2 separate regions of the Homo sapiens genome follow, and region 1 is linked to region 2. Evidence: fine-mapped expression QTL. A gene starts in region 2. The other region holds a variant in brackets. All regions are shown on one strand. Distances are between the middles of the regions. Region 1 holds the start of H2BW2 (H2B.W histone 2). Region 2 holds the start of H2BW1 (H2B.W histone 1).

The links. PIP is the estimated chance that this variant, and not a neighbour inherited with it, causes the effect.
Region 1: its variant is the best candidate, but not a certain one, in a credible set for the expression of H2BW1 in cerebellum (GTEx, PIP 0.68).

Annotation. Positions count from the first base shown.
Region 1 is chrX:104,036,531-104,052,714 of GRCh38, forward strand. H2BW2 (H2B.W histone 2) reads left to right here and starts at 3,426. Exons shown (of 4, transcript NM_001388464.1): 1 at 3,426-3,874; 2 at 4,298-4,356; 3 at 4,558-4,576; 4 at 5,582-5,924. The coding sequence starts at 3,465. The coding sequence ends at 4,334. LOC107985662 (a long non-coding RNA gene) reads right to left here. Exons shown (of 3, transcript XR_001755992.2): 3 at 14,938-15,435. The variant G/A (reference allele first, on the strand shown) is at 7,552.
Region 2 is chrX:104,002,836-104,019,019 of GRCh38, forward strand. It overlaps H2BW1 (H2B.W histone 1), which reads right to left and starts at 10,873. Exons shown (of 3, transcript NM_001002916.5): 1 at 10,335-10,873; 2 at 9,855-9,913; 3 at 8,312-8,628. The coding sequence starts at 10,741. The coding sequence ends at 9,877.

The DNA.
Region 1 (16,184 bases), 34 kb after region 2:
TATGGAGGGCAGTCTGTTGTACTCAGATCCATTGATTTCAATGTTAATCTTACCGAAAAGGACATTCACACAAACATTGAGAATAAAATTTGACCACATATCTAGGTACTGTAACCCAACCAAGCCGAGTTACCTAGATCTCTATCTTTGCTTATTTGGGAAAAAAATCTCCCCCTGGTTGGAAAGACAAGACGAGACAAGACATGAAATTGGCCATCACAGAGCTAAATGTTGATCATCGGGTAATGACTGTATAACCCTAACCTGAAAATTTTCCCCACTCACTGCTTCCCACCCTGTCTCTCACCAATCTGCAACAGACTAAACACATGCTCCCCAACTTACAATGGAGTTAAGTCCAGTTAAACCTATCACAAAGGTAAATAATTTTAAGTTGAACCATGCTAAGTTGGAGTCCATCTGCATTGGACACAATTGTGCAACATGGAATGGCTATGCATTTGTTTCAGACAGCTATTGAAACACACAATTGAGCTCAGGCATGGTTGAATTTGCTAACTGCTGCTTGAAGAAACTCCCGTGGCTGCACGAGAAAATCAGGTTTCTTGTATACATTTGCAGGAAGGCTAACTTGATGCTTTTGCTTTTACACCTCTGAATTTATCACGTTGCCTTCAGGGAAAGATCAAACTACGTAAAGACTTGTTGTGAAGGGGAGGCTCACCTCAGACTGTCTACCTACGTATTCATGCGTTGAAGGTGCCATCACCGCAGTATGAGAGAGGATGGCAGGAGACAACGTTCAAGTGCTTGGGTTCTGGACTCAGACTGACGTGGATTTGAATTTCTGCTCTTCCATTTATCAGCTGTGTGATCACTGGACACGTTTGTTAGTTACTGTGTTTCTTGTCTGCCAAAAAGTTGAGGCTAAAATATCTACACCATAAAGAGTTATTGGGAGGAGTCAATGTGATATGCAGATCATGGAGGAAACAAAATCTGACATTCTCATGGGTTTAACACGGGGACTCAGACAGCTTTGTAGAGAAATAATTCCTTTTAAGTGCAGAACAGGAAAGGGGACTGTACCCAAGAGGTCCCGATGGGTCGTGTGGACTAGCCACAGAATTCAGCAATGGTCTCATAGGTTGTCATGGGCCAGTCTCTTATCTAACATAGGTTCATTTATTTATCTGTTCATTCAACAAAGATCTGAGATCTACTACACTCACAACTTCCTGCATGTTCTAGTTACATTGGGAAGTACAGATTTGTAAATTTGGACATGTTTCAGAGTGAAAGGGGATGCTGTTAAGAATTACTAAGGGACAACAGGTGAAATCAGGACACATGGTCACTATACTAGGGAAAATGTCTGGGATAAGGAAAAAGAGGAAATAGCCACCCTTTACAGCTTCTTCTGTGCCCCCACTCACTTCCACACTCCTTCCCCCTTATTGCAGAGTGACAGTCTAATGAAAGGGGAAGACTATTATATTGCATCAAGAATCAGGGCCAATCATATTTTGGAGAAAGCTTTGTACTGAAGTAAGTGTTTTTATTGTCTCAAATTACCATAGTGGGTTAATTTTGTCAGACACATGTGCCTGAAAGTGAAAAAGCCCCACAACAATCAAATTGAAAAAAAAAGGAGAGTCGTCCTAGTTTTTTTAATTGGTCACTATCATTTTATTAAACTTGTGGACAAATGTAAACCTAAAAGAGCCAGTCTTTCCAGATGGATCCCAGTGACTGAGCCTAAATCTAAACTAGAGCCAAGCAAGCTGCCACGTGCAGACTAGAGCTCACACATGTACTAGGAATTCCCCAAAAGCCCATACCTCTATCTAACTCTGCAACTTTCAGAGGTCACCTGAACCAACCAGCCAGAGCTCACCTGCCCCTGCCAATCAGGGCTCAGTCGTGTTGACCAATCAGAGATCAACTGAGTCAACCAATCAGAACTAATTTTGAATCCTTTATTTGCATGAATGGACTGTACTGAGAACCTCGATGGGAACTTTCTCTATAAAAGCCATATCCTCTTTTAGTTCTCTGGAACTTCGCCTTTGTTTTACACTGAAGTCTGCCCCTCCCTGGTGTGCAAGCTGTTCACAGGAATAGTCTCTTTCCTCCAAATTCCTTTTCAGAGAACTTGCCTTCATAATATGATGCCAGAGGTAGGAGACATGCTTACTCACAGCTTTGGATTCAAATCTTTAATTCACCACAATTACAATAAAACGAAAAATCAAACAAAGAAATAAAAAGTGGACAAAAACCTCAAACTAATTTTCTCCTCAATTTACAAGGCTGAACAGCTAGGAGGGCATTTATTGGTTCAGGACTGGTCACCTGCTCACATTCTGAGCCAGTGGCTCAGGCCCAGGGCTGAAGACACTTCATTAGTTGAGCCAGTGGAGAGTGGGGTTTGGGTGCTCTCATTGGATACTTCCATCGTAAGTGATGCATACTCACAGGACATTAAGCTTTGCATTAAAAAAGATTGTAGACTGGGAAACAATAGAATTAGACAAATGTGAATGAGTTAGAGTCCTTACTTTATTTTCTCGGAAGCTTGAAAGGGGTGCTGTTCATTGAATTTTTGATTTAGCTATTTCTGCACTGTGGGTTTTTGTTATGTATTTAAATGAATTGTATAATAGAGGTAATGTTGAAAAAAGATTATATGAGGTCTGCTTGTTCCATTAGTAATGTTTGCCCCGTTTGATGCTTCTAAATTGTTATTTACAGCAGTAAACTGTTTCCCTTTGTGTGTGTGTGTGTGTGTGTGTGTGTGTGTGTAATGTGATTTAATTTATAATATTTCAGGTATGAGTTTTGTAACCAAGTTTATAAATGTTCTCAGATTTTTGTAGTGTGCATCCTTCAATGGGTATCAACATCATGTTTTATTTTCTTGAAATAAGTTTTCTCTGCCAGGCACAATAGCTCATGCCTGTAATCCCAGCAGCTTGGGAGGCCAAGGCAGGAGAATCACTGGAGTCCAGGAGTTGGGACCAGCCTGAGGAAACATAAAGAAACCATGTTTCTCACACACACACACATACACACACACAAAATACAAAACTTAGCCAGGTGTGGTGGTACGCGCCTCTACTCCCAGCTACTTGGGAGGCTGAAGAGGGAGCATCACTTGAAACCAGGAGGCAGGGGTTGCAGTGAGCTGAGACCGCACCACTGCACTGCAGGTGTGCCACAGAGCAAGACTCTGTGTACCTTTGTCTGAGGTAGGCAACCCGGCCACTTAGGCGGGCAGACGCCCTCTGTGATTGGCTGACATGATTCCAAGCAACAGGATCATCCGATCACCTTCAATGGAGGGAAGATTGCTGAGAGGCGCCCTTGGTGACACTTCATCCAATCAGATGTCGAGTTGGAATGTGACGTAGAGCCATGCGACCATACCAAAGTGCCCCCCACTTCCCTGGTCCCCAACCGTCACTCTCTGTTCTTGCTATCTAATGGCCGCTGCTTCCGCCATGGCTGAGGCTTCCTCTGAGACAACCTCGGAGGAAGGCCAGAGCATCCAGGAGCCCAAAGAGGCCAACTCCACGAAGGCCCAGAAGCAGAAGAGGCGAGGGTGCCGAGGCTCCCGCAGGCGCCACGCCAACCGCCGTGGGGACAGCTTCGGGGACAGCTTCACCCCCTATTTCCCCCGGGTGCTGAAGCAGGTTCACCAGGGCCTCAGCCTTTCCCAGGAGGCCGTGAGTGTCATGGATTCTATGATCCATGACATATTGGACCGCATCGCCACCGAGGCTGGTCAGCTGGCCCATTACACCAAGCGCGTGACCATCACCTCCCGGGACATCCAGATGGCCGTGCGACTGCTGCTGCCGGGGAAGATGGGCAAGCTCGCCGAGGCCCAGGGCACGAATGCCGCCCTCAGGTACACCAAAAGCAAGTGAGCTGTCTCAGGAGCGCCTGAGCACCTGGGAAACCCAAAGGCTCTATTCAGAACCACCGCCCGTGGCCCTATAGGCCAGTGGCCCGCCAAGGGGGGGACCCCACCGGAGGTTGGTGTGGGTGGCACCGTTCCAGCTTGGGGGGCATGTGCCGTGTGGCCTCCTGCGGTTTTTCAAGCATTTTTCCCACAGTGCAAAACACTGTCAACTCCAATATATCTGTAGTGCAATATGCTCCAAGGAAAAGTAGGGGGTGTTTCCGTAATCGTGTTTCGTGTCCTCAGTTTCCCAAATGGCCGTTTTTCTTAGTTATCTTTCTAGGTTATCTTTATGATGATGTTATCAATGTACTGATGTTTACCTTTTTCACTCTCATTCTCCTACGACTGGATGGTGGGATTTTCCAGAACTTCATTATGTGCGATATGGCAACAGAGAAAGTGAATATGCTGATACAAGAAGCAAGGTAACCCTCCTAAATGTGTTCAGCATCTCTCTCATCATGAATCCATGTAAATAAGCAAACGAGGCCCAGTTACAGTATATATATGGCTAAATAAAATTTTCAAGAATCCATTCGTTTTCCAGCTTCCCCGACTCTGAGACCACTATTGTAATTCATTCTCTTTTTGTACTGACAGTAATTTTTTCATTTCTTTTTGAACAGAAACCTTCCTTACTTCCAGGTGTGTGTCAGTAGGATTACGGAGTGTCCACGGAAACAGCTCATGCCCTAGTGTACAGTGGTACAGCCAATGAGTGACCTGCAGTCTATGAGCAACAGTCATTGACCCAATGTGGGGGGAGTGACCCAAGCTGAACCCACAGCAGCCTTCCTGTTATATTCAACCTGGTGTTTAAAGGAACGGCAGTGTGATTCTTTACCTGATGTTTTTGTTTGCATTGCTTGTAATCATGATCTTTTAGGGATATGAATCCAAAGCTAAGATTAGAATATGTACCTTGTCCCTAACATCAAGTTATACAGAACATTGGCAACCATTAGTAGAAGTCAGATAAGGCTTATTTCCTCAAAAGATTAGCATATTTATATTCATGTTAATATTAATATAGGCTACCTTTCATTGTGCTCTCTTCTGGGTCCCAAGTCTTGGCATTTTAAGCATTTTTTTCTATAAGTGTATTGCTGAATTTCAGAGCAGGTGCTCACTTTCCCATTGCTTTCCTTTTCCATTGATTTCCAGTCGCCCGAGTATGTGGACAAGAGAACATACTCTGGGACTGCAACCCACAGGAATTTATTATGTTGTGCCTTGAAGCTCAACATGTGGCCATTTTTGTTAAATGTTTCCCGTAAATTTTGAAACATCTCATAAACAACCCTTCTCCTTCATATGTAGAAACCAGTAAAGGATGGCACTCTCAGTCAAACCATGAAACAAAAGCTGGATAAATGACAAAAATCAAAATTTTCTTGAGCCCATCAGAAGTGGGAAAGAACCACCCCAGAGGGCCCAACACATAGCCACATAGATTATTCCACCATTTAAAGAGGACCCCTTGGTCAAGAGGGAAACAGGGTCAGGGCAAGATGGTAGCCAGAGCTTCCCTGAGTAGTGCAGATGGGAAGAGGGGAAGGTCACCTCCAGAGCTCCACTTGGGATCCATAGAGAAATGATATAGAACCAAGAAGTCCACTCATTGGGATCTGTTACTTTCTGTTTTTCCAGATTATTAGAAAAATATTACAGAAATAGCTGAAGAGAAATGTTATGAAAATAGTTGAAGTTGTGCTTATTGCACGAGGAGACCAAGAAAAACCCCACAAAATCAGCTGCAAGTAAATCCTTCTGGATGGTGCCACCAAATGTTCCTACAAGTCCGGAACAACCCTTGCCAAACCAAAGACCCTTGCCAGAACCCTGCTTCTTCCCAGAGACAGAGCTGTGTACCTGACAAAACACCACATCTCACTCAGTGACTTATTTCTCATTATGCTAATTGTTTTGCTGTAAAATGCCAATGTTTCTGTGAATTAAGACATACGAATAAATTTCTGAAGTTACCCTTGCATATGTGTGTAATTAGACAAGTCCTTTTGAGAAACCAAATCCACTGAGATATTTTACCTTGGAATATGTGTTTTCCCTTTGTAAATTCAGAAATCAAAGAGGGCCATTAGTAAAACAGGGTTAACAATGAAATCTGATTTGGTTGTGGGGAGTGAAGAGTGAGGGGGCAAGGGGACTGATGCCGGTGAATTACAGGAAGAAAGAGGAAAGGGGTGGATTGATGTGAAGATCGGAGGAGGAAGCTCACACATTTGATATGGTATTTCTTTGGGTCATTGAGCAGAAGCGGAACCTATTAGGCAATCATGATGTCATGCTGTGACTTAAAGAAACGCAAACTACGGGAAAGACCTTTACTGCTTAAACAACAAATAAGAAGTATCAATGTAGGGAAAACAGCATGAATGGGATAAAGAGAGTCCAGTCAAACATTTGATCAGCCTTCCCTGTAACCTGGAGTTCATTTGAAAATATAAGCAAGGACACAAACACGGCAGAGAAAACTACATCAAAAAGTCTAAGGAACAATACCTATTCTAGGCTCCTTCGTAATGAAATCTCACTTGTTTAGATTTACCTGATTCTGCTCTTCTTCAGGCTAGAATCTTTTGTTTAAGAAAACCTTCATGACTGGCCTCAGTGCATCATGGGGATGATGGAATGCCGTCCAATGGAGCAGCACAAGCTCCACTCAGATCCGTGTCAGCCAGTGAGGCAACTGCAGCCAAGGGGCCATGGCCCAATGTGTGATCAGGTTTCCCGGTCTGAAATAGGTAGAGTTAGTTGTCCAGGGATGTTCAATGGGAGTTGAAGGGGAAACCTGTGATTACATGGGTGTGCTTCTTTGGCTCTTCGATGGGTTGTATGCTTTCAATGCTTCTGATGGAGGTGTATTCTATCAGTTTTCTAGGGCCGCTGAAAAATATTCCAGAGACTGGCTGACTTAAACACTATGTATTTTTTATCTCACAGTTCTGGATTACAATTGTCACCATTTTGTAAGGAGACCAATCCTGTTGGATAAGGTCAACCCTCATAACTTCACTTTAACCAGATGACCTGACTAAAGACTCTCTCCAAATAAGGTCACATTCTAAAACACTGGGGGCCAGGACTTCTACCTCTGAATTGTAGGGAGACACAACTCCATACATACTAGTACACCTTCTGCACCACTCCGTGACACAAATTAACAACCTCACATAGAAAATACATTCATTTCATCACAACATCCCTGAAGACTTAACTCACTCCAACGTCAATTCTCTAATATCTCACCTGATAATCTTCTATATCTGGAATGGGTGAGCCTCCAGGTATGATTCATGCTGAGGCGGGAATTCTCTCCACCACTGCATCTGTGAAGCTAGACAAGTTATCTCCTTCTGAAAGACAGTTGTGAGACTGATACCAGATAGGGCTTATCATACCAAAAGCAGGAAATCCGAAAAACTACTGGAGTACGTGGGCCCTAAGCACTTTTGAAACCTAATGGGGGCAAATTCCGTTACATTCTAAAGATGGAAAAGATTCTGCTTGGGCTCAGTGCTCTGTCCTTCAGGCCCAATGGGGTAACAGCTTCACACCCTAAGCCCTGGGCAGCCGGGTGGGGGCTCTCCCCCCAGCCT[G/A]GGCTGCTGCAGCCCATCCCTCTGAAACCGAGGAGGTGGGACAAATGCCTGGAACTCAGGAGGTGACCTCCATTTCTGGGACCAAGAGAGAGATGGCCCAGTCCCCTAGTACCGTGCCCCTGGTTCTTGGGGGCAGTGACGGCCATGCCAACCTCTGACCCAACTTTGGAGTCCTTCCTCCCTGTCTCGAAAATGAAGAAATGGTCACAGCTGGGTGCCTCAGTCAGTCCCTTTCTTGCCGGTACAGTCCAGGAACTCTAACAGCCTCCTTGAATTTCGTCCCATCTTTGTCCCGTTCAGTCCAGTCTGGCAATGTTTTTCTGCTGTAAAATTCTCAAAAAATTCTTGGCTTCCCACGGAATTCACATGCGTCCAGGCCATCAGACAAGAAGTTGTCTAAAGATCTTTCGTGAATACCAATATCTTCCATATTTCAATTCCTAACTTCTGCAGAGACAGTTGATTGGATCTGTGAGACACATACCTCCCCTCTTTAGCTAACGGTCTTCCAGGCACACCCTTGCACCTATTTCCAGAGCAAGGTATCTGCATCTTTTGAGTACCTTCTGAGTCATCCAATGCTGACTTCCTTTTACTCAGTTCTTCCTTTGCTAATTTCTCTCTCTTCTCTCCCATTCACTATACAGATCTAGGAGAAACCAGATTAAATCCTAAATACTTTTCTCAGTTTGTCAGTGTAGTGGCCAAGATTCCCCCCTTGTCCTCTTAAGTTTCACTGAAAACTCAAGTCACAAAAGGCAGATCCATAGGACATAAGGCATACCAACTTATACAATGTGTCTCCCTGGGAGTCTTTAGTGTTAATAGCCAAAGATACATGGGAAATTATTATCCATTTTTATGCCTTGGCTTAAAGGAATATGGACATCTGTGTAGAAATATGATGGGACAAAAAGACTATGATCTAATGCGAATAGGCTGAGTGGGGGAAACCTGGCAAGGCCTGTGTGTCTAGACTCTGCTTGGCCTATCTGAGCACACAGTCCTTCCTCCCGGATACGGGGCAGGACCCTCTCTGGAATGGGGGTCTTCTGACTTCCATTCAAAGAAGATAGGTTAGATCATTTCTTCATGGACAGTTTTTACATGAAAATGTGGAAGATATTACAATATCATTTCTTGGTTTTGTGACTATAAAAAAGAGCTTCTGGTTTCTAGAACCCACCTTCGGGAAGAAGGATTCTGGTTCCTGGGTTTAGCCCCTGAGGTTGAATGGGACTGAGAGACAGGAGGACCAAGAATGTCAGAGAAAATCTTTTTTATCTGAAAATACTTCTGAAGCCCCCATTTTTTGGTATTGTGCCCTGAACTCCAAAACTAGAAATCAGCTACATGTGCAAGTTCATCACTTACAAATTCTGCTTTCCTCAAAGACACTAAGAACACAATACAGCCCAAATCTTTGCCACTGTAAAACTAGGATGGCCTTTCCTCATGCTTCCAATAACCTCTTCGTAGTCTCCGTCTGCAAACACGCCACAAGCACCTTTAACACACATAGTTCTAGCAACATTTCGGTGATCATGATACATGTATTCTCTAAGTCAGAGATCCTTTCTCTACAGCAAATAATTCTTCTTAGCCCTCGTTTCAATTGCATTTGGTGTTCATATTTCCCTCCGCTGTTTCCTAAAGTCACTCTAGGCTTCTTGTGTCATGCATGTCAAAACACTTCCAGCCTGTATGCATTACCTAGTTCCGAGGCCTCGTCCAATCTTTGGAGGTTCCTTATTGCATCATCCCACTGCTTGGCAACAGAGTCTCTAGTAGTTTGCTAGGGCTATTCTGAAAAAGTACCACAGATCTGATGGCATAAACAGCAGAAATTTATTGTTCACGGTTCAGCAGGTTGGAAGTCCAAATCAAAGTGCCAGCTGTGTTGGTTCCTTCTGAGTAGTAAGAGGGAAGGATCTCTTCCAGGGATCTTTCCTTGGCTTGTAAGTGGCCCATTTATCCCCATGCCACTTCACGTTTTCTTCCCTGGACGCATGTCTCTGTGTCTGAATTTCCCCTTATGGTATGCAGAATGCATTCTAGTCATTTTGGTTAGAGCACACCTTAATGAATGTAATTTAACTTGAGTACCCCAGTTAAGGACCTACTTCAAGTAGGAGAGAGATGAGGGGTCAGGAGTCTAATATATATATTGGGGACTGAGGGATCTTAGGCTGCAGACTCCTTATGGAAATCTAATGACTGATGATCTGTCACTGTCCCCCATCACCCCCATATCGGACCGTCTAGTGGCAGGAAAACAAGCTCAGGGTTACCACTGATTCTACAATATGGTGAGTCGTAAAATTATTTCATTACACATTAAAATATAATAATAATAGAAATAAAGTGTACAATAAGTGTAATGCACTTGAGTCATCCCAAAACCATCACCCCCAATGCCATTCCATGGAAAAAATTGTCTTCCCTGAAACTAGTCACTGGTGTCAAAAAGGTTGGGGACCGCTGGTCTACCCAGCGTGTGCTGGCAAACTGCTATCCCCCGAGTCATTTGTTATCTTAGCCTATGTCTGGGAACAAGAGGAAACTCTGGGATTGCTTCTTCTCTGAAGAGGATATGGCATCCAGTCGCTATTGAACTTCAGTACAATATTGAGAATTCTAATTGTCAATAACCAATAGATTGATCCTCTAAATTAACCCGCTAAATTATATTAAAAGGATTTTAGAGATTTCTCATTCTAACCAGTTGATAAAAAGGTTAAACATATAAAAAGACACATCATGGTGTGACAGTTAGCCTTAAAATTTGGCTTGACAAAAGTGACGAGCAAAAAATCTGACCAAAACAAAGATAACCTCCTGTGTCTGCTCAAACTGCCCCATGTGGGAATAACAACAAAGGCCACTCCACCTTGTGAAATCTATTTTCCTCCTCTTTGGAGACACCTCATGCATCCTTGGTTGTGTCATAATCTTGGTGAAACTTACCTGAAAAGGTACCTTTACTTTAACGAAAACAAAACAAACAAGAAAAGGTGAAAACCCAGAAATATCAGCTGCTTGTCTTCTGCTGCTTGTGGGCCATAGTGGCCTCGGCTGCTGTGGGATCTTTCATGTTCAGGCATTCATTGGAGGTTGTCTCAGAGGAAGGCTCAGCCATCTTGGAGGCAACTGCCAGTGGATGTGAGGAACGGACAATGATGGCTGACCACCAGCGGGATGGCCTTTTGTAGTCACCCCATGGCTTATGTCACGGGCCAGCAACTCCACATCTGACTGAATGAAGTGCCACGCAGGGAGCCTATCAGCAAGCCTCCTGGCCTTGGAGGCGATTCGATGGTCTCGTTGCTTGGCAATCACTGTGGGTGTCGGTCGACCTGCTCCCCAACACTCACCTGCCGCAGAGCAAGTGCTCAACCCTGCCAACTCTCAACTAGAGCGAGGTCTGCGTTCCACGCATTCTTCCACCCTTGTTCTCTGACTACTCCAGTTCCAGACAAGTTGGGTTGTACTAGGATCCTCTCTAAATCATATTCCTCATCTGTTTATTCCTTATTTCTTCCTCCAGGAGCCCACTCTCTCTTGGAAGAGCTGAGGATCCTCGCTCAACATGGTGTGTCAGGGTTGCCAAAGACCTGATGTGTGAGGCTTCTTTGCCTTTTCATAGGTAGGGTGAGCAAGCAATTTCCTGTTGAATATATGTGAGGGCAGCATTTGGAGGGAATGGGGAACTACGAATAATTGGGCTGGCACAATAGGCAAAATCAGGATGTGTGGCCACCCTTCTGGGGAAAGATCTGGCAATAGAATAAGAACGTCCCTTGTGTTTTGGGACAAAAAGATTCGTGGGCAATGAGACTGATTTACTTTTAATAGCATCTTTTTCATGATTTCTTCTCTTTGACATTCTGGTGCTTTTGTTTTCTGGAGGCAACTGGTGTGGCTAGGCTGCATTAACATGGGAAAGCGACACAACACCTTGAGAACGTCTGTTTGGGTCATAGGACTCATGTAAGCTAGTGGGACCGGACTCGACAGAAAGAGTGATTGAGGGCATCGATTTGGGAGTCAGAGGAGACCTGGGCTGAGACCCCAGCTGTATCTCTTACTAGCTGTACTGCGATTGGCAAGTGGCTTGACCTCTCTGAGCCTCAGTTTCCTCCTCTGTGGAACAGGGGTCTAGAAGGTGGTTGTGAAGATCCAGGGTGATGATGCAGACACGGTGCCAGATACATAGTCAGCAACCAATGAATGCCGGCTGTACCTGGTCCCAATTCCGAGATTTGTGCCCTCAGGCAATGGCAGGTGGTGGGGGTGGGATCCAGTGCCAGACAGCTGAATGAACACGCTCTCCTGGCTACCTGGGCCCCATCTGTTTGCTTCGAGCTGACAGTGAGATAAGGGACAATGACTTTCCCGTCCTGAGCCACATGTTAGTGAAGCGGTAGAGATAATGCTGCTCTGAGTCCTGACGGGAAGTTGCTGGGGAGCAACTTTACAGTGCTCCCGGCTTGGGGCACTACCCACTCGGGGCTTTGTGACAAGTTATTTCCACTCACTGCCACAGAACCTGGCTTCCCATACCACCTCCTTGCCCCCACCCACCGTCTCCCTAACTGAATTTTATTCACTTTTCAGGTCTTGGCTCAAATCCTGACTCCCCTGTGAAGATGTCCTGACCCTCCCAGCCTAGAGCCACTGCTCGTTTCATGAGTCTCCAGATCTCCAACTGTGACATGGGCATACTTGTTTGCCACATCCCCACAGACGGATTGTGATGAGGAAGGAAAGAGAGAGTCGATATAGCATGCTAAGTGCAGTGTCTGGTGCGGGCCTGTGGTGAGTTCCCCGCCTACACTTCTTCCTCCCCTCCGAACCCCCAGCATGCAGGCATGGCGGCCTTGATCACATGCTGCCTTCTCTTGATAATCATTGGGGATCATTCCTGTGCTAGTTGCCCCTCAGTTGCAATGTCACAGACCATGGGGGCCACATCTCATCCTTTCTCACCTTCCAGCATCCAGCACTACAATAAAAGCCATCATAACCATTTTTCATTGGGCACCTTAGGGTAACATGTGGCAGGCACTCGGCTATGTGTGTAATGCACATGAGTGTAGTCCTCACTCTTTCCCCTCCTAGCCCTCTTCCAGGATGTGCAGGCATTGATTCTCCTTTGAATTATATTAGACAAATTGTGTCAACCGCTACCAAGGTCGCTTCATGAGTAAGTGGCCTCGACAGACATAAAGTCCTATGCTAGATTAAGTTTCTAGTGAGTGCCTGAGAATGGGTGGTTGGCAGGAAGGACAGACGTAGAGCCCAGAATACAAGTGCCTTCCCCATGACTTTTACCCGGCAGAGGCAGGGATTCGAGTTCTTCCTGGTTTAGACTTGGGAGGGTATATGTGTCCAGGAATTTATCCATTTCTTCTAGATTTTCTAGTTTACCTGCATAGAAGTGTTTATAGTATTCTCTGACGGTAGTTTGTATTTCTGTGAAATCAGTGGTGATATCTCCTAATGAATGTAATTTAACTTGAGTATCCCAGTAAAGAAACCATCTTTAAGTAGAATAGAGATGAGAGGTTAGGAGTCAAACTCACGTATTTGGTGTGGCAGAGGCAGCGGGGAGCACAACTGAACAAACAGAACATAGGAATCCTGAGTTGTAGATGTGGATATCTCCAGCCTCTTCCAGTATGTTAAGAGAACACTGGTGACTGATGAAGGGAAATAAGGTGATCCCTACCCATGTTTTTTAAAGTCTACTTGAAAGTTGAGTAATTGTATTGTATATATAATATATATGCATATACATATACATATATATATATATATGTATATATATATATATATATTTGTCCTTTTCCAGCTCAAAAGGGAGAGAAGATACTCTGTGATTTCAATCCTCAGAAATGTATGACTATTTGCTTTAAAGTCCTAGATTTGGCTAATTTTGTTAAGTGTTCCATTTGCACTTTTATGATAACTTGTAAACTCCACCATTCAGTAGTAGGTACAAACCTATAAGGGTCATCACTTTCAGCGAAACCATGTGACCAATGTTGGATAGTGTCCAAAAATGAACGCTTTTCTGTAGCCCATCAGAAGGAGCTTACAACCCTCCAGGAGAGATAAAACACAAAGTTTCTTTAACTTCGGTAGACCCCTGTGACCTCAAGTAAATGAATGGGGGTAAGGGAGGATACTAGGGGAAGCATCCTTGAGTAGCCCAGGCAAGAAGGGCACAATGCTAGATTGAGGAGTGGGAATAAATGTCTGTGTTTTCAAGGCCTAAATCACAAGAATTCTGGTGGGAAATGATATCTTCAAGACTCTTCTTTGGATCATGAGGGTGAAAATTTAGGACAAAGAGCCACCTCAGAAAATTCATTACTTATTTTTATTCTGGAGAAGTAAATGAACATCATGAAAAGACTTGGAAAAACATTTTTTTCCTAAGCAGACTAGGAGAAACTACTACAATTCAACTGCAAGCCAATCCCTCTGGGTGGTGCCTTGAGTTTGTCTTAAACTATTGGAAAACAAAGGATCTCTGCGGGCATGTGCACACTTTCCAAAACAGAACTCTATGCATCAGAGGAAAAAAATATATAATTTCTCTACACATCACTTAATTTCCGTCATGCTCATTGCTACTGCTTCAAAATGCCAGTGTTTGTCCATACGACATTCAAAAATGCATCAGAAGCGGGCTGCAGACTTGAAGCCCAGAAGCTCAAAGTTGACTGACACTAATGAAATTTAGGAAGGAGTTGAGGGAAATGGGGTTTGATGTGGAAGATCCAAGGGGAGGTGAGGACATCTGATTGTTGACTTCAGCGGGTGCAGGAGGAAAAAGGACGCCTAGGGAGGCTTCGTGATCTGATGGTGAGGTTTACGGAAAGGACAATCTAAAAGGAAATGGTTTTACTGCTTCTGTGACAAAGTATAACTGTCAACCTAGAAAACAGATGTATTAATACGACAGACGTAACCAACCAGGTTGTTTCTTACAACAGGACCCATATTATGGACATCATTTAAATATCTAGGGCCCGGCACAGTGCCTGTAATCCTACCACTTCAGGAGTCCAAGGCGGGTGAATCAACTGAGTTCAGGAATTCGAGATCAGCCAGGGCAACATGGGGAAACCCATCTCTACCAAAAATACAAAAATACACACACACACACACACACACACACACAAATTAGCCAGGCGCAGTGACACATGCCTGCAGTCTCAGCTTCTTATGGGGCTGAGGTAGGAGAATCGCTTGAACCCAGATTGTCCAGTCTACACTGAGCCGAGATGGCGTCATTGCTCTGCAGCCCGGGTGACAAAGTGAGACCCAGTCATAAGAAAAAACTAAAAAAGATATATAATGTAAAATACATATATGTAACATATATATATATATATATAAACTATATAAAAAGAATAAATAAATATCTTAGTATCACCCATCCACAAAATGTATGTGTTTTTGATGACATAAGTACATCATAAAGTTCAAGAATCAATACCTCTCCAAGCTCCCTAGAAACTGAAGTTATTACTCCAACTACTTCTAATGTATCTGATTCTGTCTGTTCTTTTCCAGGTTATATTGTTTTATTTCTGGAAATACCCACCTTCATGACTTGGAACTAACGCATCGTTGGGATGATGGAAACGTCCAATCAGAGGGGTCCAAGCCCCACTTTCCACTGGCTCAGTCCATGGCCATTGGCCCACAGTGCTTGTTCAAACAGTGTGGGATAAGGTCGCTCCTGTAGTCACTCCCTAAATTCCTCCGGTGGCCTGAAACCTGTCCTCTCTAGAACGCTGAGGTGTGTGCTGTCGTAGGCTCCATAGAGAGGGATGGATTGTCATTGGAGTGCCACATTTTAGGGGAGCCCTGAAAGAGGAGGTTGATGAGGGAATTTGGAACACTCGGGGGCCCCTAATCTGGAGGCTCAGATATTGAGACCAGGTTCTAGTCAAGCTACTATTAACAAGTACTGATTTCCCATATTCTCCTTAATGTTGTTCTGTGTGTCTGTTTATGTATGGCCAGGGCCCCAGAAGGGAGAAAGAGCATCTATAATGCTTAGAAACTCCATGCCACTTAAGGGCAATCACTGCGGCATGGAGAAGGAGGATCCACTAAATGGGAGAGGTCACCCTATAGTGATAGGTCCAACCTAAAACCATTAGAGAGCCTACCGCTTTGACCCAGAGAGTAAAGCACCTCTTCTTTTATGCACATGCTCCATGTGTACCACCCAGCAGCATCTCAAGAATTGTATGCTGAATAGGCCGCATCTCAGAAAGACTGCTCATTCCTGAATGCTCTTCCCGTTGGCCCATTGGTCGCATCTGTTTGCCCCTCCCTCTGGGCTCCCGACAAGCCTGTGATGGCTTTGACACATGGAGAATGGTGGACGTTAGCCTGTCCCAGAGGTAACCTTTCAGAGGACTAGAATGGCCTCTGCCTGGCTGTCTGAGAGCTCTGAGCTGCCACGAAAGAAGCCCACCTCTCCTGCTGGAGACACCACAGTGATATGCTCTGAGGGGCCTTGGAGAGGTGCAGAGGCCCAGCTGAGCTCAGCCCTCCAGCCAGCCCCTCCAAGGCATCAAGTATGCCAGTACAAGGTGTCTGGGACC
Region 2 (16,184 bases):
ATTTGTCTTAAACTATTGGAAACCAAAGGATCTCTGCGGGCATGTGCACACTTTCCAAAACAGAACTCTGCACATCAGAGGGAAAAAAAAACCATAATTTCTCTACAAATCACTTAATTTCTGTCATAATCATTGCTACTGCTTCAAAATGCCCGTGTTTGTCCATACAGCATTCAAAAATGCATCAGAAGCGGGCTGTAGACTTGAAGCCCGGAAGCTCAAAGCTGACTGACACTAATGAAATTTAGGAAGGAGTTGAGGGAAATGGGGTTTGATGTGGAAGATCCAAGGGGAGTTGAGGACATCTGATTGTTGACTTCAGCGGATGCAGGAGGAAAAAGGACGCCTAGGGAGGCTTCGTGATCTGATGGTGAGGTTTACGGAAAGGACAATCTAAAAGGAAATGGTTTTACTGCTTCTGTGACAAAGTATAACCGTCAACCTAGAAAACAGATGTATTAATACGACAGACGTAACCAACCAGGTTGTTTCTTACAACAGGACCCATATTATGGACATCATTTAAATATCTAGGGCCCGGCACAGTGCCTGTAATCCTACCGCTTCAGGAGTCCAAGGAGGGTGAATCAATTGAGTTCAGGAATTCGAGATCAGCCAGGGCAACATGGGGAAACCCGTCTCTACCAAAAATACAAAAATACACACACACACACACACACACACACACACACACACACACACACACACACAAATTAGCCAGGCGCAGTGACACATGCCTGCAGTCTCAGCTTCTTATGGGGCTGAGGTGGGAGAATCGCTTGAACCCAGATTGTCCAGTCTACACTGAGCCGAGATGGCGTCATTGCTCTGCAGCCCGGGTGACAAAGTGAGACCCAGTCATAAGAAAAAACTAAAAAAGATATATAATGTAAAATACATATATGTAACATATATATATATATATAAACTATATAAAAAGAATAAATAAATATCTTAGTATCACCCATCCACAAAATGTATTTGTTTTTGATGACATAAGTACATCATAAAGTTCAAGAATCAATACCTCTCCAAGCTCCTTGGAAACTGAAGTTATTACTCCAACTACTTCTAATGTATCTGATTCTGTCTGTTCTTTTCCAGGTTATATTGTTTTATTTCTGGAAATACCCACCTTCATGACTTGGAACTAACGCATCGTTCGGATGATGGAAACATCCAGTCAGAGGGGTCCAAGCCCCACTCTCCACTGGCTCAGTCCATGAAGGCCCTGCGGCTCCTGGGCCATGGCCATTGGCCCACAGTGCTTGTTCAAACAGCGAGGGATAAGATCGCTCCTGCAGTTCTCACTCCTAAATTCCTCCGGTGGCCTGAAACCTGTCCTCTGAGATGCGTGCTGAGATGTGTGCTGTTGTAGGCTCCATAGAGAGGGACGGATTGTCATTGGAGTGTCAGATTCTGGAGAGCCATGAAAGAAGAGGTTGATGAGGGAATTGGGAACACTTGGGGGCCCCAAATCTGGAGGATCAGATATTGAGACCAGGTTCTAGTCAACCTCCTATTAAGAAGTACTGACTCCCCATATTCTTCTTACTGTTATTCTGTGTGTCTTTTTATGTATGGCCAGGGCCACAGAAGGGAGAAAGAGTGTCTATAATGGTTAGAAACTTCATGTCACTTAAGGGCAATCAATCACTATGGCATGGAGAAGGAGGATCCACTAAATGGGAGATGTCACCCTGCTAGTGATAGGTCCAGTGTAAAACCATTTGAGAGCCTACCCCTTCGACCCAGAGAGTTAAAGGACCACTTCTTATGCACATGCTCTGTGTGTGCCACCCAGCAGCATCTCAAGAAGCGTGTGCTGAATAGGCTGCATCTCAGAAAGGCTGCCCATTCCTGAATGCTCTTCGTATTGGCACATTGGTTGCGTCTGCTTGCCCCTCCCTCTGGGCTCCCGACAGGCCCGTTGATGGCTTTGACACATGGAGAATGGCGGACTTTAGCCTGTCCCAGAGGTAACCTTTCAGAGGACTAGAGTGGCCTCTGTCTGGCTGTCTGAGAGCTCTGAGCTGCCCCCTAAGAAGTCCACCTCTCCTGCTGGAGACACCACAGTGATATGCTCTGAGGGGCCTTGGAGAGGTGCAGAGGCCCGGTTGAGCTCAGGCCTCCAGCCAGCCCCTCCAAGGCATCAGGCGTGCTGGTACAAGCTGTCTGGGACCTTCCCCAATGACCTTAGGCATCGGGTGAATAAATAGCACTGAGTGCAGCTCCTCTGGCTTCTACTTGTAAGGGACACTTAAGCACAGTGGAGCCTGTCTCCTCATTGCATCATAGGTCACACGGGTGATCTTGTGGCCTGGTTCTCTCCCAAGGATCTGTGGGAGTGAAATGCCCATTGTGGACTCCCAAGGGATTCAACATCTTCTAGGCTAACAGACCTTTTCCAAGGAGGCTTTCTTGACCCGGGCTTGTTCTACAGTTCACCTTGAGGATGGCCAGTGGGTGGGTCATCTGCTACTATTTTGGGGGATCCTGGAGCCACTGTGGAATTCCCTGGGACAGCTGCCTTGAGGTTTAGCTTGAACCATCCCCTCTCCATTTCTCCCCCTGTCCTGGAGGGACTATATCCCCTTACCTGAGCTCGAGGACCCACTGAGTCCTATGTCTTTATTGCCTACAGCTTTCTCTCAAGCAGGCCTGCCTCTGCCTGGTAAAAGTACAAGGCAGGCACTGCTATATTGGGCTCTACATCTTTCCCTCCTGCCCACCACCCATTCACAGGCATTCACTAGAACTTAATCTAGCATAGGACTAGATGCCTGTCAGGGCCACTTACTCATGATGCGACCTTGGTAGCGGTTGACCAAATCTGTCTGGTATAACTCAAAGGAGAATCAGTGCCTGCACATCCTGGAAGAGAGCTAGGAGGGGAATGAGTGAGGACTACACTTATGTGCATTACCTACATAGCCGAGTGCCTGCCACATTGTACCCTAAGGTGCCCAATGAAAAATGGTTACGATGGCGTTTATTGTAGTGCTGGATGCTGGAAGGTGAGGAAGGATGAGATGTGGCCCCCGTGGTCTGTGACATTGCAACTGAGGGGACAACTAGCACAGACATGATCTCCAATGACTATCAAGAGAAGGCAGCATGTGATCAAGGCCGCCATGCCAGCATGCTGTGGGTTCAGAAGGGAGGAAGAAGAAGAGTCAGGGAACTCACCACAGGCCTGCACCAGACACTGCACCTAGCACGCTACATCGACTCTCTCTTTCCTTCCTCATCACAATCCGTCTGTGAGGATGTTGCAAACAGTGTGCCCATGTCACGGTTGGAGATCCTGTGACTCAAGGAGGGAGCAGTCTCTCTAGGCTGGGAGGGTCAGGACATCTTCATAGGGGAGTCAGGATTTGAGCCAAGACCTGAAAAGTGAATAGGATTCAGATAGTGAGACGGTGGGCAGGGGCAAGGAGGTGGTATGGGAAGCGAGGTTCCTTGGCCGTGAGGGGGAATAGCTTGCCACAAAGCCCCGAGTGGTTAGTGCCCGAAGCCAGGAGCACTTTAAAGTTGCTCCCCAGCAACTTCCCGTCAGGACTCAGAGCAGCGTTATCTCTACTGCTTCACTAACATGTGGCTCAGGGGGGAAAAATCATCCTCCCTTATCTCACTGTCAGCCCGAAGCAAACAGATGTGTCCCAGGTAGCCAGGAGGGTGTGCTCATACAGCTGTCTGGCACTGGATCCCACCCCCACCACCTGTGATTTCCGGAGGGCAGGAATCTCGAAATTGGGACCAGGTACAGCCGACATTCATTGGTTGCTGACTATGTATCTGGCACCCCGTCTGCATCATCACCCTGGATCTTCACAACCACCTTCTAGAGCCCTATTCCACAGAGGAGGAAACTGAGGCTCAGAGAGGTCAAGCCACTTGCCCAACACGGTACAGCCTCTAAGAGGCACAGCTGGGGTCTGAGCCCAGGTCTCCTCTCACCCCCAATCCCATGCTCTCAATGACTCTTGCTGTCGAGTCCAGTCCCACTAGCTCACATGAGTCCTAAGACCCAAACAGACGCTCTAATGGTGTTGTGTCTCTTTCCCATGTTAATGCAGCCTAGCCACACCAGTTGTCTCCAGGAAACAAAAGCACAGGAATGTCAAAGAGAAGAAATCATGAAAAACATGCTATTAAAAGTAAATCGCTCTCATTGCCCACCAAACTTTGTGTTCGAAACCCCAATGGATGTTCTTATTCTATCCCCAGATCTTTCCACAGAGGGGTGGCCACACGTACAGGTTTTGCCTATTGTCCCACCCAATGATTCGTAGTGCCCCATTCACTCTGAAAGCTGCCCCCACATTTATTAGACAAGAACTTATGTGCTCACTTGCCTATGAAAAAGGCAAAGAAGCCTCACACATCAGGTCTTTGGCAACCCTGACACACAACGCTGAGCGAGGATCCGCAGCTCTCCCAAGAGAGAGTGGGCTCCTGAAGGAAGAAATAAGGAATAACCAGATGACGAATATGATTTAGAGAGGATTCCTAGTACAACGCAGCTTGTTTGGAACTGGAGAGGTCGCAGAACAGGAGTGGAAGAATGCGTGGAACGCAGAGCTCGCCCTAGTTGAGAGTCGGAAGGGTTGAGCACTTGCTCTGCGGCATACCAAAAGGGGAAATTCAGACACAGAGACATGCATCCAGGGAAGAAAATGTGAAGTGGCATGCGCAAGAGTGGACCATTTACAAGTCAAGGAAAGATCCCTGGAAGAGATCCTTCCCTCTTACTACTCAGAAGGAACCAACCCAGCTGGCGCTTTGATTTGGACTTCCAGCCTGCCTAAATGTAACCAATAAATTTCTGCTGTTTATGCCGCCATGTTTGTGGTACTTTGTCAGAATAGCCCTATCAAACTACTGGAGATTCTGTTGCCAAGCAGTGGGATGATGTGATAAGGAACATCCGGAAGATTGGAAGAGGCCTTGGAACTAGGTAATGCATACAGGCTGGAAGCGTTGTGACAGGCATGACACAAGAAGCCTAGAGTGCCTTCAGGAAACGGCGGGGGGGATATGAACACCAAATGACATTGAAACGAGGGTTAAGAAAGAATTCTTTGCTGTAGAGAAAGGATCTCTGACTTAGAGAATACATATATCATGATCACCAAAATGTTGCTAGAACTATGTGTGTTAAAGGTGCCTGTGGTGTGTTTTCAGACGGAGACTAGGAAGAGGTTATTGGAAGCACGAGGAAAGGCCATCCTAGTTTTACAGTGGCAAAGGTTTGGGCTGTATTGTCTTCATAGTGTCTTTGAGGAAAGTAGAATTTGTAAGTGATGAACTTGCACATGTAGCTGATTTCTAGTGTTGGAGCTCAGGGCACACTATCCCAAAATGAGGGCTTCAGAAGTAGTCTCAGATGAAAACGATTTTCTCTGACATTCTTGGTCCTCTGGTCTCTCAGTCCCATTCAGCCCCGGGGGCTAAACTTAGAGACCAGAATCCCTCTTCCGGAAGGTGGGTCCTAGAAACCAGAAGCTCTTTTTTCTAAAGATAGTCACAAAACCTAGAAACGGTATTGTAATGTTTTCCACATTTTCATGTAAAAACTGTCCATGAAGAAATGATCGAACCTATGTTGTTTGGAGTCACCAGACCCCCATTCCAGAGAGGGTCCTGCCCCATATCCGGGAGGAAGGACTGTGTGCTCAGATAGGCCAAGCAGAGTCTAGACAGACAGGCCTTGCTGGGTTCCCCCACTCCACCTGTTAGCATTAGATCATAGCCTTTTTGTCCCATCGTATTTCTACACAGCTGTTTATACTCCTTTGAGCCCAGGCATAAAAATGGATAATTTCCCATGTATCTTTGGCTATTAACACTAAAGCCTCTGGGGATACACTTCGAATAAGTTGGTATGCCTTATGTCCTATGGCTCTGCGTTTTGTGACTTGAGCTTTCAGCAAAACTTAAGAAGACCAGGGGGAACCTTGGCCACTACACTGACAAACTGAGAAAAGTATTTAGATTTAATCTGGTTACTCCTAGATGCCTACAGTAAATGGGAGAGAAGTGAGAGAAATTAGCCAAGGAAGCACTGAGGAGAAGGAAGCCAGCACTGGATGATTCAGAAGGTACTCAAAGTATGCAGATACCTTGCTCTGGAAACAGGTGCAAGGGTGTGCCTGGAAAACCATTGGCCTAAGAGGAGAGGCATGTGCCTCACGGATCCAATCAACCATCTCTGCAGAAGTTAGGAATTGAGATATGGGAGATATGGGTATTCAAGGAAGATCTGTAGACAACTTCTTGTCTGATGGCCTGGACTCATGTGAATTCCGTGGGAAGCCAACAAATTTTTGAGAATTTTATACGAGAAAAATGTTGCCAGACTGGACTGAACGGGACAAAGATGGGACGAAATGAAAGGAGGCTGTTAGAGTTCCTGGACTGTACCGGCAAGAAAGGGACTGACTGAGGTACCCAGCTGTGACCATTTCTTCATTTTCGAGACAGGGAAGAAGGACTCCAAAGTTGGGTCAGAGGTTGGCATGGCCGTCACTGCCCCCAAGAACCAGGGGCACGGTACTAGGGGACTGGGCCATCTCTCTCTTGGTCCCAGAAACGGAGGTCACCTCCTGAGTTCCAGGCATTTGTCCCACCTCCTCGGTTTCAGAGGGATGGGCTGCAGCAGCCCAGGCTGGGGGGAGAGCCCCCACCCCGCTGCCCAGGGCTTAGGGTGTGAAGCTGTTACCCCATTGGGCCTGAAGGACAGAGCACTGAGCCCAGGCAGAATCTTTTCCATCCTTGGAATGTAACGGAATTTGCCCCCATTAGGTTTCAAAAGTGCTTAGAGCCCACGTACTCCAGTAGTTTTTCAGATTTCCTGCTTTTGGTAGGATAAGCCCTATCCGGCACCAGTCCCACAACTGTCTTTCAGAAGCAGACAACGTGTCTAGCTTCACAGGTGCAGTGGTGGAGAGAATTCCCGCCTCAGCATGAGTCATACCTGGAGGCTCACCCATTCCAGATATAGATTATCAGGTGAGATATTAGAGAATTGACGTTGGAGGGCGTTAAGTCTTTGGGGATGTTGTGATGAAATGAATGTATTTCCTATGTGAGGACATTAATTTGTGCCGCGGAGTGGATGCAGAAGGTGTACTAGTATGGATGGAGTTGTGTCTCCCTACAATTCAGAGGTAGAAGTCCTGGCCCCCAGTGTTTTAGAATGTGACCTTATTTGGAGAGAGTCTCTAGTCAGGTCATGTGGTTAAAGTGAAGTTATGAGGGTTGACCCTACCCAACAGGATTGGTCTCCTTACAAAAAGGTGACAATAGGTATCCAGAACTGTGGGATGAAAAATACATAGTGTTTAAGTCAGCCAGTCTCTGGAATATTTTTGCAGCGGCCCTAGAAAACTAATATAATAAAATACACCTCCAACAGCAGCATTAAAAGCATACAACCCATCGAAGAACCAAAGAAGCACACCCATGTAATCACAGGTTTCCCCTTCAACTCCCATTGAACATCCCTGGACAAGTAACTCTTCCTAGTTCAGACCGGGAAACCTCATCACACATTGGGCTGTGGCTCCTCGGCTGCAGGTGCCTCACTGGCTGACAAGGATCTGAGTGGAGCTTGTGCTGCTCCATCGGACAGCATTCCATCATCCCCATGATGAACAGAGGCCAGGCATAAAGGTCTCCAAAAACAAAAGATTCTAGTCTGAAGAAGAGCAGAATCAGACAAATCTAAGCAAGTGGGATTCCATTTCTAGGGAGCCTAGAATAGGTATTGTTCCTTAAAATTTTTTATATCATTTTCTCTGTACTGTCTTTGGGTCCTTGCTCATGTTTACGAATGAACTCCATGGTACAGGGAATGCTGATGAAAAGATTGATTGGACTATGTTTGTCCTATTCATCCTACTTTCCATACATTGATACTTCTTATTTGTTGTTTAAGCCGTAAAGCTATTTCCCTTACTTTGTGTTTTCAGTAAGCCACAGCTTGACATCACGATTGCTCACTAGGTTCCCCTTCTCCTCAATCACCCACTGAAATGCTATAGCAGATGTGTGAGCTCCTCTGCCCATCTTCACATCAAAGCAGCCTTTTTCTCTTTCTTCCTATAACTCACCGGCATCAGTCCCCTTGAACTCTCACTCTTCACTCCCCACAGCCCAATCAGAGTTCATTGTTAACGCTGTTTTACTAATGCTCCTCATTCATTTCTGAATTTACAAATGGAAAACACACACTCCAGGGTAAAATATCCCAATGGATACGGTTTCTGAAAAAGACATGTCAAATTACCCAGTAGACATGCAAGGATAATTTTAGAAATTTATTTGTATGTCCCATTTGACAGAAAGACTGGCGCTTTAAAGCGAAAACAATTAGCATAATGAGAAATAAGTCACTGAGTGAGATGCGGTGTTTTAGACAAGGTACACAGCTCTGTCTCTGGAAAGGAACAGGGTTCTGCCAAGCGTCTTTGGTTTTCAAAGTGTTGCTCCGGACATGTAGGGTCACCTGGCGGCACCGTCCAGAGCGATTTAGTTGTGGCTGATTTCGTGGGGGGTTTTTCTTGGTCTCCTTGTGCAGTGAGCATTTCTCTTCAACTATTTTCATGACATTTTTCTAATATTCTGCAAAAACAGAAAGTAGCAAATCCCAATGAGGGGACTTCTTGGCCCTACATCCTTTCTCTACGGAGCCCAAGTGGAGCTCTGGAGGTGAACTGCCCACGCTGCCCAAATGCACTACTCAGGGAAGCTCTGGCTACTATCCTGCCATGCCCCCATTTCCCTCTTGACCAAACGGTCCTCTGCCAAAGGTGGAATAATCTATGTGGCTATGTGTTGGGCCATCTGGTGTGGTTCTTTCCCACTTCTGATGGGCTCAAGAAAATTTTGATTTTTGTCATTTTCCCAGCTTTTGTTTCATGGTTTGACTGAGAGTGTCACCCTTTACTGGTTTCTACATATGAAGGAGAAAGGTTGTTTATGAGATGTTTCAAAATTCACGGGAAACATTTGACAAAAATGGCCACATATTGAGCTTCAAGGCACAATACAATAAATTCCTATGGGTCGCAATCCCAGAGTATGTTCTCTGGTCCACATACTCGGGCGGCTGGAGATCCTCTGAAAAGAAAAGCAATGGGAAAGTCAGCAGCTGCTCTGAAATTCAACAATACACTCATAGGAAAAAGTGCTAAAAATACAAAGACTTGGGACCCAGAAGAAAGCACAATGAAAGCTAACCTATATTAACATTAACATGAATATTAATATGCAAATCTCTTGAGGAAATAAGCGTTATCTGACTTCTCCTAAAGGCTGACCATCCTCTGCATAACTTGATGCTAGGGGCAAGGAACATATACTACTCCTAGCACTGGATTCATATCCTTAAATGACCATGATTACAAACACTGAAAACAAAAACATCAGGTAAAGAATCACAACCCTGTCCCCCCAAACACCAGACTGCATATCAGTGCAAGGCTGTTGTGGGTTCAGCCTGGTTCACTGCCCCCACACTGGGACAATGACTGTTGCTCATAGACTGCAAGTCACTCATTGGCTACACCACTGAACACTAGGGCATGAGCCATTTCTGTGGACACTCCCTAAGCCTACTGACACAAACCTGGAAGTAACGAAGGTTTCTGTTTAAAAAGAAACGAAAAGATTATCGTCATGGCAAAAAAAGAATGAACTGCAATAGTGATCTCAGAGTCGAGGAAGCTGGAAAATGAACGGATTCTTGAAAATTTTATTTAGCTGTATGTACACTGTAACTTGGCCTCATTTGCTTATTTACATGGATTCGTGATGGGAGCGGTGTTGAAAACATTTAGGAGGGTTACCTTGCTTCTTGTATCAGCGTATTCACTTTCTCTGTTGCTGTATGGCATACAGTGAAGTTCTGGAAAATTCCACCATCCAGTCACAGGAGAATGAGACAGAAAAAGGTAAAGATCAGTGCAGTAATAATATCACCATATAGATAGCCTAGAAACATAACTAACAAAAATGACCGTTTACGAAACTGAGGAAATGAAACACGATCACGGAAACACCCACTATTTTTCCTTGGAGCAAACTGCACTACAGATATATTGGAGCTGACAATGTTTAGTACTGAGGGGAAAATGCTTGAAACATTGCAGGATGCCACACGCCACATGCCCCCCAAGTCGGAAGGGCACCACCCACCCCAGCCTCCGGTGGTGTCCCCCTTGGCGAGCCACTGGTCTTTCAGGCCACATTCAGTGGCTCTGAAAAGACCCTTTGGGTTCCCGTGGTGCTCGGGTGCTCCTGAGGGAGCGCACTTGCTCCTGGTGTACCTGAGGACAGCCTTCGTGCCTTCGGACTCGGCGAGCTTGCCCATCTGCCCCGGCAGCAGCAGGCGCACAGCCATCCGGGTCTCCCAGGCAGTGATGGTCTGGCGCTTGGTGGAGCGGGCCAGGTGACCAGCCTCGGTGGCGATGCGGTCCAATATGTCATGAACCAAAGAATCCATGACACTCACGGCCTCCCGGGAAAGGCTGAGGCCCTGGTGAACCTGCTTCAGCACCCGGCGGAAATAGGTGGCGAAGCTGTCCCCGCGGCAGTTGGAGTGGCACCTGCGGGGCCCATGGCGCCCTCGCTTCCTCTGCTTGCTCTGCTTCTGGGACGTAGTGGAGTTGGCCTCTTTGGGCTCCTGGGTGATCAGCTGTTCCTCAGAGGTCGTCTCAGAGGAAGGTCCAGCCATGGCGGAGGCAGTGGCCATTAGATGGCACGACCAGACAATGGCGGTTGTGGACCGGGGAAGCCGGGGCACTTCGGTACGCAGCATGGCTCCACGTCTCGGGCCAGCTTCACGTCTGATTGGATGAAGTGTCACGCAGGGAGCCTCTCAGCAAACCTACCTGCGTTGAAGGTGACTGGATGGTCCCGTTGCGTGGCATCTCGTCAACCAATCACAGTGGGCGTCTGCGGGCCTAAGCGCCCCTTGTGGCCCAGCTCGGAGAAAGTTACACAGATAGATGCCTCACGGGGCAAAAGCGCATCCGCCCTTCTCAGCTGATCCATGCCACACTGTGAGCACTTTGAAGGGTGTCACTGAAAACTCCCAAAGTTTAGCAATTTCAGCTCATGATCCCTGAGGAGAGACAGACCTCCTGAGCCCAAGTCCATTATGCCGGAAGAATGACTGTGGCCACGTGTGGAACAATTGTCACCCATCTCAGAAGCTACTGTTATCCTGGGCTAAGCCACCCTGGCTTGAGCAGGAACTCCCTGACATGGCCGCCTGGGCATCAAAGGACCTAGCGGTCTGGCTCCGGGCTTCAGTACTGATCAACATCTTCCGTGAATCAGGAGAATGAGAAATGGCCATACCCCAGCCTCCAAGCAGACAATAGAAACAGAAAGGCACTTTTATTAAAAACATATGACAACACTCGACATCGACCAGGTTTAAAAAAATAATTAAAAAAAAAAAAAGGAAAGCAAAACAACAACCACAAATCACAACTCAAAAGCTGGAAATGGCTAATAAGTTTAAGAGATATTGGGTTAAAAAATATCGCCTTAAATCTCCTAGGAAGCCCCTGAGGGAGAGAAAGGGATTCCAGAAATGGAAATTATGTTCAAGTTAGAAAGAGAGCTTTCAAGAGTCTCTGATAATATACGCAAAGGCATTCCTTAAATGCATTTAAGTAACATTAAGTTGCAGGAATTGAACAAGAAAGATTCTTAAGAAATGCTGAAGAAATAAAGGTCATCGATGAACTGTCATTTCAAAGGTCAGGCTTTCAAGTGTATTTCCTGTCATGTCTTTAGCAAACAACTTATTCTACTCCTAATAAATTGGTTCACGATTAAGAAGGACAAAAAGGCTCATTTTTGTTGTTAGATAAGATCGTATATGGTAAGCTCTGTGACTGAACTCTAGTACACCATTTCTGAACAGTCCCCTTTACAAATGATGATCTTATAAATCTACTTAAACGTTTAGCAAGACAATCCTTCTCGTAGTTTGGTACAAGGCACAAGAGACCTGTCCACAACAATCTCTGTATTCATATCAGTAAGTCAGCATGATATTTTTCTTAAAAAAAAAAAAGCAAACAAAAAACAGGGAAAGAGCCACATCGTTTTTCTTCACAATCTGCAAGGTTAAACCTCCCAGGGAGGCTCTCACTGGTTCATTTCCGGGTCACCTCCCCACACTTTCAGCCATGGCTTGTGGTGCCTCAAGGGCTGGAAAGCCTTTATTGCCTGAGCCAGTGGTGACTATGGCATGAGCTGCTCTCACAGGATGTTCCCATCATCTACGTGATGCAAAATTGTAATATATAGTCCTTATTTTGTTTCTCTAATTCTTTTTTTTTCTTTTTTTTGAGACAACAATCTGTCACCCAGGCTGGAGTGCATTGGTGCGATCTCAGCTCACTGCCACCTCCACCTGCTGGGTTCAAGAGGTTCTCCTGCCTCAGGCTCCCCAGTAGCTAAGACTACAGGGATGCGCCACCACACCCGGCTAATTTTTGTACTTTTAGTGGAGACGGGGTTTTATCATGTTGGCCACGCTGGCCTTGAACTCCTGGCCTAAAGTGATCCATCCACCTCAGCCTCCCAAAGTGCTGGGATTACAGGCATCAGCCACTGCGCCCTGCCTGTTTCCTTAATTTTTAATATAGTCATAATCTTTATTGCATCAGGGTGTTTTCCATTTTATTTTAAGTTCGGGGGTACATGTACAGAATGTACAGGTATTTTAGAGAGGTAAACGTGTGTCATGGGGCTTTTCTGTGCCGATTATTTCATCACCCAGGCATTAAGCCTAGTAACCATTAGTTATTTTTCCTGATCCTGTCCCTCCTCCCACTCTCCACCCTCCGATAGGCCCCAGTGTGTGTTGTTCCTCTCTATGTGTCCATGTGTTCTCATCATTTAGCTCCTACTTACAAGTGAGAACATGCACTATTTGGTTTGCTGCTTGTATTAGTCTGTTCTCACGCTGCTATGAAGAAATAGCCGAGACTGGGTTATTTATAAAGGAGGGAGATTTAATTGACTCACAGTTCCACAGGGCTGGCGAGGCCTCACAAAACTTACAATTATGGTGGAAGGAAATGCAAGCACGTCCTTTTTCACGTGGTGGCAGGAAGGAGAAGAAGTGCAGAGCGAAGGGGTAAGCCCCTTCTAAAACCATCAGATCCTGTGAGAACTCACTCACTATCATGAGAACAGCATGGGGGAAAGCACCCCCACAGTTCAGTCACCTCCATGTGGTCCCACCCTTGACACAGGGAGAGTATGGAAATTACAATTCAAGGTGAGATTTGGGTGGGGGACACAGAGCCAAACCATATCACTGTTCTTACAGTAGTTTGCTAAGGATAATGGCCTCCAGCTCCATCCAAGTCCCTGCAAAGGACATGGTGTCGTTCTATTTTATAGAGGCATAGTATTCCACGGTGTATATGTACCACAGTTTCCTTATCCAGCCTATCATTGATGGGCATTTGGGTTGATTTCATGTCCTTGCTATCGTGAACAGTGCTGCAATGAACATACGCATGCACACGTCTGTATAATAGAACGATTTCTATTTCTTTGCGTATATGCCCAGTAATGGCATTGCTGGGTCGAATTGTATTTCAGACCTCAGGTCTTTCAGGTATTGCCACACTGTCTTCCACAATGGTTGAAATAATTTACGCTCCCCCAAAGACCGTGCATAAGCGTCCCTTTCTCTCTGCAAACTTGCCAGCATGTGTTATTTTTGGACTTCATCATAGTAGCCATTCTGACTGATATGAGACAGTATCTCATTGTGGTTTTGATTTGCATTTCTCTAACATCAGTGATGTTGACGTTTTTTTTTATTTGCTTGTTGGCCCTATGTAGGTCTTCCTTTGAGAAATGTCTGTTCATGTCCTTTGCCCATTTTTTAATGGGGTTGTTGGTTTATTTCTTGTAAATGTGGTTAAGTTCCTTACAGATGCTGGATATTAGACCTTTGTCAGATGCATCGTTTGCAAAAATGTTCTCCCATTCGGTAGGTTGTGTGTTTACTGTGTTGAGAGTTTCTTTTGCTGTGCAGAAGCTCTTTAATTTAGTTAGATACCATTTGTCAATTTTTGCTTTTGTTGGAATTTCTTTTGGCATCTTAGTCATGAAATCTTTGCCTGGTACTGGTGTCCATGTCCCGAATGGTGTAGCCTAAGTTGTCATCTAGAGTTTTTATAGTTTTGGATTTTACTTTTAGGTTTTTAATTCATCTCATGTTCATTTTTGTATACGGTGTAAGGAAGGGGGTCCAGGTTCAATCTTCAGCATATGGCTAGCCAGCACCTCCAGCACTATTTATTCCATAGGGAATCCTCTCCACATTGCTTGCTTTTTTTCAGGTTTGTCGAAGATCATATAGTTGTAGGCGTGCAGTCTTAATTTCTGGGTTTGTCTCAAAATAATAATAACAACAACAACAATAATAATAATTTCTGCATTCTCTATTCTGTTCCATTGGTCTGTGTGTCTGTTCTTGTACCTGTACTGTAGCCCTGGAGTATAGTTTGAAGTCAGGTAGTGTGATGCCTCCAGCTTTCTTCCTTTTGCTTAAGATTGTGTTGGTCTATTCGGGCTCTTTTGTTGGTTTCACGTGAATTTCAGGATATTATTTCCAGTTCTGGGGAGAATGTCAACGGTAGTTTAATGGGAATAACATTGAATCTGTAAAGTGCTTTGGGAAGTATGGTCATTTTAACGATACTGATTCTTCCTATGCATAAGTATGGAATGTTTTTCCATTTGTTTGTGTCACCTCTGATTTCTTTAAGTAGTGGTTTGTAGTTCTCCTTGTAGAGATCTTTCACTTTCTTGGCTAGCTGTCTTCCTAGGCATTTTATTCTTTTTGTGGCAAGTGTGAATGGGAGTTCATTCGTGATTTGGCTCTCGGGTTCATTGTTGTGGATGTACAAGAGTGCTGGTGATTTTTGCACAATGATTTTGTATCCTGAGGATTTGCTGAAGTTGTTTATTAGCTTGAGAAGCTTTGGGGCTGAGACGATGGGGCTTTCTAGATATAGGATCATGTCGTCTGAAAACAGGGACATGATTTTGACTTCCTCTCTTCCTATTTGAATGCTCTTTATTCCTTTCTCTTGCCTGGTTGCCCAGGCTGGAACTTCCAAGACTATGTTGAATCGCAGTGGTGAGAGGGCATCCTTGTCTTGGGCCAGTTTCCAAGGGGAGTGCTTCCAGCTCTTGCCCATTCAGTATGATGTTGGCTGTGGGTCTGTCATAGATGCCTCTTATTATTTTGAGGTGCGTTCCTTCAGTACATAGTTTACTGAGAGTTTTTAACATGAAGTGGTGTTGAATTTTATCAAAAGCCTTTTCTGCAGCTATTGAGATAAACATGTGGTTTTTCTCTTTCGTGCTGTTTATGTGATGAATCACAACTGTTGCTTTGCGTATGTTGAACTGACCTTGCATCACGGGGGTCCCAGGGGTGAAGCCCACGTGATGGTGGCGGATACGCTTTTTGGTGTGCTGCTGGATTCGGTTTGCCAGTAGTTTGTTGAGGATGTTTGCATCGATGTTCATCAAGGATATCAGACTGAAGGGTTTTCTTTTTCTGTTGTTGTATTTCTCCTGCGTCAGTTTTATACAATCATCGTTTTACTCCTCTTGTTAATTTATTCTATTACCCTTCCTTCTTGGCACCTCCAGTCATCTTCTTGTGATCACTTTACATCTCTTTAAATGACATTCTTCAGAAATTTCTTTAACAAAGTTTTTGTTGGTATCCACACTAAGAGTTTTCCATTTCTCTCAAATATCATCATTTCTGACTTTGGTCCTGGAAGAAATTGGCTCTGAAATAAAGTTTAGTGTGTGGGAAACTTATTCAGGGTCAATAGCTGAGGAAGGGTCTGGAGGCAGGCAGGAGTGGGCATAGGGAGAAGTTCACCTCGAGTGCAAGGCCAGTGGAATCCTATTCTGATCCCAGGGTGAGATCTGAAGATAAAGGGGCCCATCAGGGTATTCGCCATTGTGCCAAAATACCAGACCGTTCGACTTCTCCTGGATCAGGCAGTGTGTATGGGCAAGGCAGCTAAGAGTAGCTATGGTAATACTGGAAAGGACTAATGGCTCAGGACTGGCACCTGCTTGCATTCCCAACACCCGAAACAGCAAAT